Homo sapiens: one gene and its partners. Changing the gene in region 1 together with any one later gene gives a genetic interaction. Each region holds a gene or a part of one and is shown on either strand. Other genes may lie near its edges. The genes, in order: TSPO, MAP3K10 and AGPAT1.

Region 1 (3,644 bases):
GACATGGAGGCAGCCAAGCGGGGGTAGAGGGGTGTCAGCAGAGACTGTGCTGAACTTGGGCTTTGGCAGGGGCAAAGGGCAAAGGGCAAATCTGGCCCCAGGGAGAAGGGGCGGCTGCTGGCCTGGGATCCATGGAGCTGGGTGAGCACAGAAGCAACCTCAGTGCCCAGCAGCCAGGGACTATTAAAGACTGGCCCCCCACAAACCAAGCTTCTGAAGGCTTTCTAGTAACGAGAAAGTTGTTCTCAACATAACACGAAGAAAGCAGAATATAACATTGACTACAGAATGACCCCAATTTTGGCAAAAAATGGATAACATAGATATGCGCTTTTTTTGAGACAGAGTCTTGCTCTGTTGCCCAGGGTGGAATACAATGGCGCGATCTCAGCTCACTGTAACCTCTGCCTCCCAGGTTCAGGGGATTCTCCCGTCTCAGCCTCCTGCCTCCCAAGTAGCTGGGATTACCAGCATGTGCCACCATGCCGGGCTAATTTTTGTATTGTTAGTAGAGACAGGGTTTCACCATGTTGGCCGGGCTGGTCTCAAACTCCTGACCTGAGTTGATCTGCCTGCCTCAGCCTCCCAAAGTGCTGGGATTACAGGCGTGAGCCACCGCGCCCGGCACGTTTTAAAGGAACAGAGTGTCAGGCATCCAGCAGATTCCGGTGCTGCCACTTACTATGATTCCCTCCCCTCCCTGGACCTCAGTTTTCTCGCCTGTTGAATGGGGACAGTTACCCCATCCCCCAAGGTCGCTGCAAAAATGAGCAGTAAGGATGGACATTCTGGGGGGGTGGGCATGTGACCTATGTCCCGGCAAGAAACGTTCCTGTGTTCTCCCTCCCGCTCCCTCCTGCCCCGCCCCTCCCTCCTGCCCCGCCCCGCCCTCCTGCCCCGCCCTCCAGCTTCCAGGGTACACGTGCTCATGGGGTGGGGATGGGGGTCTGATGTCACTACACATATGAAAGGCCACCCTCCCTGGGGCAGGAGGTACTGCTGAGCACTGGCCCTGCACCACCGCCAAGTGGATATGGAGCTCTGGACCACAGCCCTGGGACCACCTCCCAGCTCAGCCTCCCACTACATCCTCTCAGGTAAGCCCAGGCCAGCTCAGCCTACTGCTCATCTGGGCAACCAAGACATAACCGCTGCTCTGCTGGAGCCTGCGTGAGTCCACAGCTGAGTGACATTGTGGGGGAACCATAAGGAGCCTCGTTCAGCCTCCACTGGAAACGAGCCGGACCAGGGTGCCTGTACGTGCCTTTTCCCAGGACACCCTCAGTTGAGGCCCACCTGCCCCACACTAATGGCCTGCTCTCACTCACAGGTGTCCCTGTCCAGGCGAGCAAGGTTAATACCACCAGCATAAGACACGTGGACATCCCGAACCCCTTGATACGACATGGAAGCTGGTGCGCTTTCAGTGATGTTCATGCCACAAATGGAAACCCCCAGTGCAGGCGTGAGCCACCGTGCCCAGCCTAAAATTAACCGTTTTAAAGTGCACCATTCAGCAGCATTTGTATATTCCCAATGTTGTGCAACCACCCTCTGTATCAAGTTCCAAAGCATTTTCAACCCCTAAAAGAAACCCCGTATCCATCAGCAGTGGTTCCCCTCCCCCTCCCTCCCACCCCTGGCCGCCAGCAATCTGACTTCTCTCTGGGGACTTGCCCATCCTGGACATTTGGTATCAATGGAATCACGCAGTGTGTGGCCCTCGTGTCTGGCTTCCTTCACTGAGCGCCATGTTCTAGAGGTCCTCACCTTGTAGCACGTGGCAGAACTCCCCACGATTCTGTCACCTGGCTCCAGCACCCAGCCAGGGCCAGGCACACACTCGGTCCCCAGGAAATCACAATGGGACTCACCCAGTGTTCCCACTGACAGGGCCTTAGAGACCACCATCCAGGTCCCCCGTTGTATGGAACGAATAAAAGTCACAGAGGCATGGTGGCTTTCCCAAGGCCACAGCAAGAGAGCAGGGTCTGAAGCCAGTTCTGAGTCCCGTGCTCACACTCCCACCCCAGGCTGCCCCCTTCTCAGGCCTGGCTGTGGTTATGACCCACAGGGCCAAGGGGCTCAGAGGGTCTGCCCCACCAGAAAACAGGCGGTCAGATGCCCCACAAGGAGAAAGCCTGGTCGGGGGCGGGGAGTTTCCTAGGGCCTCTGGGGAACTGCCCAGCTCCTGAATTGCCCAAATGGGGAACAGGTGGGCAGGGGCGGTACCCACCATGATGAGTCATGCTGAGCCAGGCTAGGCAGGATCCAGATATCTGCTCTGGGATGAGTCCAGGGAAAGCTGGGGTGGGCCAGGCCAGGGGGCACACATGGCAGGGACAGGACTCAGGCTCAGGCAGAGGGGTGAAGCCACCTATACACCCTTTATTTGTCTCCTTCAGAAAGCGAATCGGGATCCAGACCTCGGCTCTGCCTCCATCCAAGGCTCGTCTCTGGGCCTGGCTTCCTCCAACGTCAGGTGGGTAAACCCGCTGTGTCTGCTTCTTGGGGGGCTGGGGTAGCTCAAGGGAGGAAGGGGTGGGACAACAACGTTTCCCTGAAAACTCCAGAGAAGAGAGGGGTTGTGGGTATCAGTGTGGGGCCACTAGCCCCATTTCCTCCAGGGGAAGACAGGGCCTCAAGGCTTGGACCTGTGACGAGACCTTATCAGCCACGAGAGCCCCTGGACACTCCACAGGTGAAAATGCCCTGCACGGAGCAGCGCCCCCAAAACAGGGGCAAGATCGGGGCAGGGTAGAGGGCGCAGGACGTAGAGGCAGGAGAAGGTTCCAAGCCTTGCTCAGCTCTGGTTGTGCACAGGCCTCTGGTAGGCAGGGGCCTGCGTGGTGGAGTCCGTGCTCATCCCGACGGTCACCGCCTTGTTCAGTCCCCACAGCAGCCACAGGGGACCAGCTGCTTCTCCCTGAGCCACACGGCCCACTCGGCCTCCATGGTGGACTCGTGACTGGTCCCATTTTCCAGATGAGGAAACTGAGACATGAGAAGTCACAGAACTTTCTAGGTCCGAGTGACTCCAAAACCCACCCCACCCCTCCCTTTGAGCTGGGTGTCTGCCGGGCTGCTCTGGGCCGCGTGACCACTTGCCAGGAGTTGTGTCACCGCCCGTCTCAGCCTCCTTCCTCATCTGAAACAGGGCTCATAGAGCCTGCGGCGCCAGGATTGGACCCGCAGGCCACTCCACCCCACCTCTGAACGGTGCCAGAAGGTTCTCTCAGGGCCAGTAGCATCACTCTCTCCACCTGCCGCGGCAACATCCCAGCCCCCACAGAGCATCGGGCCCTGCAGAATCTGAGCCCTTCCCCACTGAGGGTGGGACCCAGGGTCTCCAGGTCTTGTGAGGCTTCACTCCTGGCCCGAAGACCCCAGACCCATCGCTGCCCCAAGGTATCTCATCTCCTGAGCCTCTGTGTCCCCATCTATGAGGTGGTGGTCGAGCCAGTGGGTTTCAGGGTGTCTTTCTGTTCTTGGAGACCTCCCTATAGGTGACCCAGAAGGCCAGGAACGGTGGCTCACACCTGTAATCTCAGCACTTTGGGAGGCTGAGGCAGGCAGATCACCTCAGGTCAGGAGTTCGAGACCAGCCTGGCCAACATGGTGAGACCCCGTCTCTACTAAAAATA
Region 2 (3,644 bases), on another chromosome or scaffold:
CTGGGACTACAGGCCTGCACCACCATGCCTGGCTAATTTTTGTATTTTTAGTAGAGATGGGGTTTTCACCATGTTGGCCAGGCTGGTCTCCAACTCCTGACCTCAAGTGATTCTTCTGCCTGGGCCTCCCAAAGTGCTGGGATTCCAGGCAAGAGCCACCGCACCTGGCCTGGTATGGATTTTCTTTTAACTGCCCTGGGGCAGCCCCCAGAGCCATGCGAGCAAGGCACTGAGGGAATCAAATTGACCTTTTTCCCTCTGGCTGCTGTAAGAAATAAAGGTGGAGAAAGCAGTGAGATGATGGAGGCCAGGCCAGGGTGGGGGACTTGGAAGGGACAGATGTCCACAGTCGGGGCTATATGGCAGAGACACGGTCATCGGAGTTTCCTGGTGGGTTGAAGGGTGAAAGGCTAGCTCCCAAGTTCCAACACCTCATTCACCCCAGCACTGTCCCCACCCACAGCCCCCCTGCCCTCTGTCTGGGCACCTGCTTTGTACCAGGCCCAGGAGGTCAGTCCTGCAGGGGACACAGAGACAAATACCCATACCATGGCAGCAAACACTGGCACCAGATAGGTCCAGAGCATTGCAGGTACAGAGATGAAGGCAGCTGACCCCCAGGGAACTAACTACCCAGAGCTGGAGACCAGAAGCGCAGGCAGCCCGCCAGAATGAATGGTGAAGGGTTAGGCTGTGAAGAGGAGGGGAGGCTGGAGGAGTTGGCAGGGAACCGCTCATGGCCTTCAGTGCCAGGCGGAGGAGCTGGAACCTTGTCCTGACAGCAGTAGGGGGCTATGGGGAGATATATAGCAGGGAGGGTCATGACTGGAGTTCAAAAGAGCCCTTGGACTCCCAGGCGGAGGGTGGGCCTGAGCTGGGGGCACTGGAGGCTGGGAGCCCAGTGGGGACAGATCCTCCACCCAGTAACCAAGTGGCTTCTCTGGACCCAGTGACTCCCGTGGACTGTGGTGGCAGCAGCAGTGGCAGCAGCAGTGGAGGAAGTGGGACATGGAGCCGCGGTGGGCCCCCAAAGAAGGAAGAACTGGTCGGGGGCAAGAAGAAGGGACGAACGTGGGGGCCCAGCTCCACCCTGCAGAAGGAGCGGGTGGGAGGAGAGGAGAGGTGAGGTGTGGTGTGGTCATGCCCACCCTGTGCCCAAGCCCCAGCTCCCAGGCTCCAGGCCACAGGACTGAGGTCTCCATCTCTCCCTGGACCCCGCAGGCTGAAGGGGCTGGGGGAAGGAAGCAAACAGTGGTCATCAAGTGCCCCCAACCTGGGCAAGTCCCCCAAACACACACCCATCGCCCCTGGCTTTGCCAGCCTCAATGAGATGGGTAAGAGCCTGGGTTCTTGTAAGGGGGTGGGGGTTCCCTGGCCAAAGGGGTGAGCCTCCTGGGGCTGAGCGAAGAGACCAGGTTTCACTGGGCCAGTGAGTGGAAGGCCTTCCTGGGAAGGGAGATGGTGGCCCCTGGGGCGTGGGGGGTCATTTCCAGGGGCAGGGACCACCCTTCTCTGAGGCTTCTCCTGGAGACAGATTCAAGAACGATGCTCGTGGGTCTTGGTCTTGCTGTTGGAGGGGTCATCGGGGGCTGTCCCTTGGCACAAGTCCCCGTGGGGCCCTGGCCAGCCCTGCAGCGGAGTGATGGCCCTCTCCGGTTGCAGAGGAGTTCGCGGAGGCAGAGGATGGAGGCAGCAGCGTGCCCCCTTCCCCCTACTCGACCCCGTCCTACCTCTCAGTGCCACTGCCTGCCGAGCCCTCCCCGGGGGCGCGGGCGCCGTGGGAGCCGACGCCGTCCGCGCCCCCCGCTCGGTGGGGACACGGCGCCCGGCGGCGCTGCGACCTGGCGCTGCTAGGCTGCGCCACGCTGCTGGGGGCTGTGGGCCTGGGCGCCGACGTGGCCGAGGCGCGCGCGGCCGACGGTGAGGAGCAGCGGCGCTGGCTCGACGGCCTCTTCTTTCCCCGCGCCGGCCGCTTCCCGCGGGGCCTCAGCCCACCCGCGCGTCCCCACGGCCGCCGCGAAGACGTGGGCCCCGGCCTGGGCCTGGCGCCCTCGGCCACCCTCGTGTCGCTGTCGTCCGTGTCCGACTGCAACTCCACGCGTTCACTGCTGCGCTCTGACAGTGACGAGGCCGCACCGGCCGCGCCCTCCCCACCACCCTCCCCGCCCGCGCCCACACCCACGCCCTCGCCCAGCACCAACCCCCTGGTGGACCTGGAGCTGGAGAGCTTCAAGAAGGACCCCCGCCAGTCGCTCACGCCCACCCACGTCACGGCTGCATGCGCTGTGAGCCGCGGGCACCGGCGGACGCCATCGGACGGGGCGCTGGGGCAGCGGGGGCCGCCCGAGCCCGCGGGCCATGGCCCTGGTGAGTGAGGCGCCCTGCACCCAGGTCACAGAAAACCCCTTCTTTCCTCCTCTGCCAGGGTCGCAAGTCCAGCCCAGCCACGACCCCTCAGGCAGCCACCTCCTGCTTCTTGTGGAGGAGGGAGGGTCTGTGTCCCTTTACCGCTCACTCCTGGAGGCATCGGGGGTCTCCAGGGGACTGAGACACAGGCGGCAAACTGATGCCTATAAGGCCAGGCAGGTGCCTATAGCGGTTGTGACCAGCATGACCATCGCCAATTCTTACACAGCCTAGACACTGTTCTCCTCCATCTGTTAACTGGGTGGGAGATGCGGCCATAGCAGTGTTATTAAGTACCCACGTCAGGCACTGTGCTGCTTGTTTTAAGTTATGGTTATTCTATTTGCTCCTCACCTGCGTGGTGAGGCACCATTTTTATCCCCCTTCAGAGCTAAGCCATGCCTGAGCTTAGCCCAGTGCAGGAGAGTCGGGAAGACCAGGGCTTTGGCCCCCGAGGCTGCCGCTAAGCAGCAGTTCCAGAAGGTTGAGGAACATGCCAGGGTCCACCCAGAGGAGCAAGCAGCTGGGAGTGGTCCCAGTCTAGGTCAAGGTCCCAGCACTGCCACACTACAGATGGAAACTGGATGCAGCAAGATCCACGGATTTCTCGAGAGAAACCAGAACTTGTGCTTTTCATGTAACAGCTCTGGGCTTTTTAATGCCACCCTCTGCCCCACCCCACTCACCTCCTCTGAACCTCTCTTACCAGGCCCTCGTGACCTTCTGGACTTCCCCCGCCTGCCCGACCCCCAGGCCCTGTTCCCAGCCCGCCGCCGGCCCCCTGAGTTCCCAGGCCGCCCCACCACCCTGACCTTTGCCCCGAGACCTCGGCCGGCTGCCAGTCGCCCCCGCTTGGACCCCTGGAAACTGGTCTCCTTCGGCCGGACACTCACCATCTCGCCTCCCAGCAGGCCAGACACTCCGGAGAGCCCTGGGCCCCCCAGCGTGCAGCCCACACTGCTGGACATGGACATGGAGGGGCAGAACCAAGACAGCACAGTGCCCCTGTGCGGGGCCCACGGCTCCCACTAAGGCCTGCCCACCACCGCCCGCCTGGGCAGCCATGAATGTAGCGCCCCAGGCCCTGCCCCAGCCCGCCATGCCACAAGGTGGGGGAGGCCCTGGGCAGGATGTTCACTCTATTTATTGGGGAAGGAGGGAGGGGGGGGACACTTAACTTATTCCTTTGTACCCCAGGGGGTGGAGCCCTGTGCCCACCCTGCACTGGGGGGAGGGTG
Region 3 (4,273 bases), on another chromosome or scaffold:
CACAGAACCTGTGTTCTAGGTTCTTCCTCCTTCCTCCACTCTGCCCCAGTGTTGGGGGCAGGGTAACAATTCACAAAAAGGGTGTTCAGGCAAATACCTGTCATTCCTACTGAGGCCACAGGCACTGTCTTCCCATGATGGGAAGGGCTATGCTCAAAGGTAAGCCTATTGCCAAGCGAGAAGGTAACAGGCAATAGAGGAAACAGGAGACCCTGCCAGTTGGAATACCGTAGGCTTTCTGAGCTGCTCCATCCCACTGCCCCTACAAGTTCAGAACAGCATCATTTCTCCCCTGAACTATGTGGAGTAGGCTCCCAACTCCCTCCAATCCATCTTCCACGTAGCAACCACAGAGATTTTTCTGTTAGCACAGATTTTTCTGAAACACAGAGCATTTCCCTGTCTTGCCTAAAGGCTCTTCTTGATAAGTTGACTTCTGCTTACATCTTCGACCACATCCTCACAAAACTCTTTGTTCCAGTCAAACTGATTCACTTCAGTTCCTCAGACACCATGATCTTTCATGCTTCCCCACCTTGAACATGCTGTTCCCTTTGGCTGGAATGCCTGTCTCTTCTCCTGCCTCACACAGCTCAGTGTCACCTTTTGGAGGGCTGCCTGAACCCCTCCAGGCCTGTGCTTTCCTTACACTTTTATCTTGATCAGCGGGTCTCGAAGTATAGAAATGCAAATTATTAGACTTCACCCCAGATCTACTGAATCAGAAATTCTGGGCATTAGGTCCAGCAATCTGTTTTTCTTTTTCTCACTCTGTCACTCAGGCTGGTTTTGAACTCCTGGACTCACGCGATCCTCCTGCCTCAGCCTTCCAAACTGTTGGGATTACAGGTGTGAGCCATCGTGGCTGGCTAGCAATCTGTATTTCAACAAGCCCTCTGGTGAGTCTGATGTGCGCCTGAATTTAAGAACCACTGATCTTGACAACACACTATGTGTTGACTGGCGTTTTTGTTTCCCTCCTTAGGCTGTAAGCAGCTTAAGGACAGGGACTCTGTCTTATCTCCAGTGCCAGGACAATAGGAGATGGAGTAGGTGCTCAATAAACACTTGCTGAACAGATTCTAAGGCTGTATACCCACCCATAGAGCCACAGTTAATGACAGAGATGGCGGTTCTGATCACAAATTAGATAGTTATCCTCTTGAGTAGAAGTGACTACTAAAAGAAGTCACTGAGAAAGTAACGAACACACCAAGCCTAATGGTAACCGACTCTGAATAGATACATGCAATACATAGCCATAATGAAGGCAGAGTAACAATAATCAGGAAGAGGTCATCTCACAAGAGAAATGTACCGAATGGGATCAAGATGCCACAGGGAAAGATGCTGCTCTCATCAAATGTGTGCCAACAGTGCAAAGAATGGAGGATAATGTCCATAAATAAATACCAACAATGGGGTTCACAGCAGGATTGACCCTGTGACATGCATTGAGCTCATGGACACAGACTGTACACAGCCACTGGAAAGATAATGTTTGTGTAGAGAGGTATGGGCCAGGGAGGTCACCAAGGTAAGGCATGCAGGGATGGTTCTTTGCAGACCTGGAGACCCAGTTACCTTCTTCTCTTAACACTTGATATTAAGTGACCCTCTTTGGAGAACAAAAGTCCAAGGATTTAGAAATGCAATGGAGGGCCAAATTTAATGAGCATACGGCTCACAAAATATACTGATGACAAATTTATAACACACATTCTATGGTCCTGTTACATCAGTGTATCATGCAAAGGCGCATACACATGTGTTCTGTGAACTGTGACTGGGAAAACACAGCAAACAGGCCAATTCAGTCAGACATCAGAGTGTGGGGTATTCAGCCAAGCCATGGGATCCCACACATGAAGACTACTGCAAATGGTAGGACCATGGACATGTCAGCCAAAGCAAAATAAGGTATATAACCTTCACATGCTGAAATAAACATGCCAAAACATAAAATGTGCAAGTAACATGAAATTATAGAACAGGTGCAATATATGAAAACTCACACACATGCGGTACTTAAAACATGTCAAAACTGGATGTGAGACATGGACACAAGAATGAAGAATGGGCAATTCTGATAGAAAATAACACACCATTTCTACACAGCCTATGGATAGCATTGGGACAACCTAGTTGCACACAAGCCATTAAACATGTCAAAGGCACACAGACTCAATGTAGAAAACATGGCTCCCATAAGGCATTTGTGTGTCAGTAAGGGTCTAGCAGTGTGGAAGGCCACTGAGAAACAAGAGGTCCTGTGCCTAGATGGAAACAGAGGCACCTAAGGGTATTCCTAAGAGGCAAATTCTGCTGGCCTTCTCCCCTCATGACCCTTCAAGAGTCATGTGGGGTCAAAGGGCAAGAAAAGGAATTGGGGAAGGTGTAGGGAATTCCCTCTCCAGGATTCCCTGTGCACGCTCCCAGTCCCAAATTCACAAGGGTTTCCATTTCTCCTCCCTCCCAGGTCTCTTCCATCCTTCCTCCCTCTCAGGTCCCCTCTCCTATCCCCAGCAACCCTCTTCCCAGTCGGCCCCTCTCCTTTCCCCAGCAACCCTCTCCCCCAGTCGGCCCTCCCAGACCCAATCTCTCCCCTTCCCCTCATCCTAGTCGCTTTCAGCACCCTCTTCCCTCCTCCTCCCATCCCTTTCCCGCCCACACCTCAGAGGGGTAGGGGGCCTGGGGGGCTGGCCCCCTCCCCAGCCAGGCTGCGGCAGCGGTGGTGGCGGATGGCTGTGTCTCTGTCTCTGTCGGGGTGTCGGTGCCAAGGGGGCGACGGGATTTGGGGGTGTCCTAGCCCCGGCCGATGGAGGGGAGGTGGGAGTGGGAGGTTGGGCCCATAGCGGTAGGAATGGTGGGGGGCTGTCCCCCCAGCACCCTCCCTCCCTCCCTTTCTGCTGTCTCTCTGAGGGCTGGGGCTGCTGCCGCCGCTATTCCCCCGCCACCCCTCCCCAACGCCTGCTGGTTTCCGGGGCCGGCCAGGAAGTGGAGGGCGGTGATGGGCAGCCTGTTTTGCCAATCGTCTCCCAGAAACTCTGGCATCTCCTCCCCACATCTACCAGTGTCCTCTTGCGAGCCCCGCCCCAGGGCTCTCCCTCGGTCTTTGCCCCCATCTCTGGCTCCAGCTGCATCTTTTTTTTCTCTAACTCCCTTTCAGCTCTGGATCCCCTGGTGCTGTATTCCTCCTTCCGCACATTCCTTCCTTTATTCTCCATCAGCTCTCTTTTAACTGCCACTTTTACTTGGTCTCTTTTTTTCTCAACTCCGGTTATCTGCTGCTTATTCCCCCCAACTATTCTTAAGGACCCCTTTTCCCGTACCCATTCAATTCTAAACATTTATCAAGCATCTACCTACCATATGACAAGCATTAAGTTCACCTCTCTTCTTTTTCTCTCCAGGACTCCATCTCACTCCATCTCACTCTCCAGTCCTCTGGTCTGGTTTCCTTTGCCCTTTGTCCCTCACTATCTCCCAGCAGTCCAGCTCCCCCCTCCACCTGCCTTCTCTGGCCTTTAAAGAGAAGAGATCTCTTTGGCCTTATCCCTGACCCTTTCCTTTTCCATGCTCTTTTACCTCTGTACCTTTTCTTTCCTACTTCCTTCGTATCAGTCTCCTTACTTGCCCAAGCTGAGACAACCCCTTCTCACAACATACAATATGGGTACATCTTTTCTTCCAATGGAAATTTGGCTTCAGGGGTGCTTTCTAGAAAAATAAAAAGTGAGGAAGAATGCCGATTCCTCTGGAATGCGCGTGCCTCCTTAATTTGGTAGCCATGTATCTAGTTTTCCACCCCCTCTTCTCTTCCTCCACTCCCATTATCCCTTTACTAGGATCATTCCATCACTTCACTCTCCTTCATTTCCACCTTTCCCTCTCAATATCTTCCTTCCTAAACCTCAAGCTTCCTGAATCCTCATCTGCCCCAGTCCTTCTTTACGCAACTGCTAACTTCTCATCTTTCCTTACTCTTGAGTCACATGGGATCTTTTATCAAGGTCCCCCCTCTAGCCACACCTTTACCCTGCATTAGTTTACATGCCCTCGGGAAGAGGATTGGTAGTGGGAGGACTGTTACCTAATTCTGCTCCTTTAGTCACAGTGAGGGTCAGTGATTGTAGGAAAAGCCCAAACTCCCCGGGGTCCAACCTGGGAAGAAGACCCTATTTCTGATGGGCAAATTATAAAGAGGAAAGGGCGGGTCTAGCCTCCGCGGGTCTCCTTAAAAGGGGCGGGCTTTGTCCCTTTTGCACCACTC

Evidence for each region.
Region 2: changes in TSPO (region 1) and MAP3K10 together harm fitness more than expected from each alone (negative genetic interaction), as found in Homo sapiens cells (one large-scale study listed by BioGRID).
Region 3: changes in TSPO (region 1) and AGPAT1 together harm fitness more than expected from each alone (negative genetic interaction), as found in Homo sapiens cells (one large-scale study listed by BioGRID).

What each region holds. Positions count from the first base shown.
Region 1 is NC_000022.11:43,154,531-43,158,174, reverse strand, and holds part of TSPO (translocator protein), read right to left. Parts: exon of another isoform or gene 2,237-3,644; intron 1-2,236. UniProt on the Homo sapiens protein: Can bind protoporphyrin IX and may play a role in the transport of porphyrins and heme. Promotes the transport of cholesterol across mitochondrial membranes and may play a role in lipid metabolism, but its precise physiological role is controversial.
Region 2 is NC_000019.10:40,211,855-40,215,498, forward strand, and holds part of MAP3K10 (mitogen-activated protein kinase kinase kinase 10), read left to right. Parts: intron 1-950; coding exon 951-1,122; intron 1,123-1,221; coding exon 1,222-1,334; intron 1,335-1,534; coding exon of another isoform or gene 1,535-1,662; coding exon 1,663-2,367; intron 2,368-2,795; coding exon of another isoform or gene 2,796-2,812; exon of another isoform or gene 2,813-3,047; intron 3,048-3,115; coding exon 3,116-3,438; 3' UTR 3,439-3,644. UniProt on the Homo sapiens protein: Activates the JUN N-terminal pathway.
Region 3 is NC_000006.12:32,173,141-32,177,413, forward strand, and holds the start of AGPAT1 (1-acyl-sn-glycerol-3-phosphate acyltransferase alpha isoform 1 precursor), read right to left. Parts: upstream 2,945-4,273; 5' UTR 2,674-2,944; intron 1-2,673. UniProt on the Homo sapiens protein: Converts 1-acyl-sn-glycerol-3-phosphate (lysophosphatidic acid or LPA) into 1,2-diacyl-sn-glycerol-3-phosphate (phosphatidic acid or PA) by incorporating an acyl moiety at the sn-2 position of the glycerol backbone.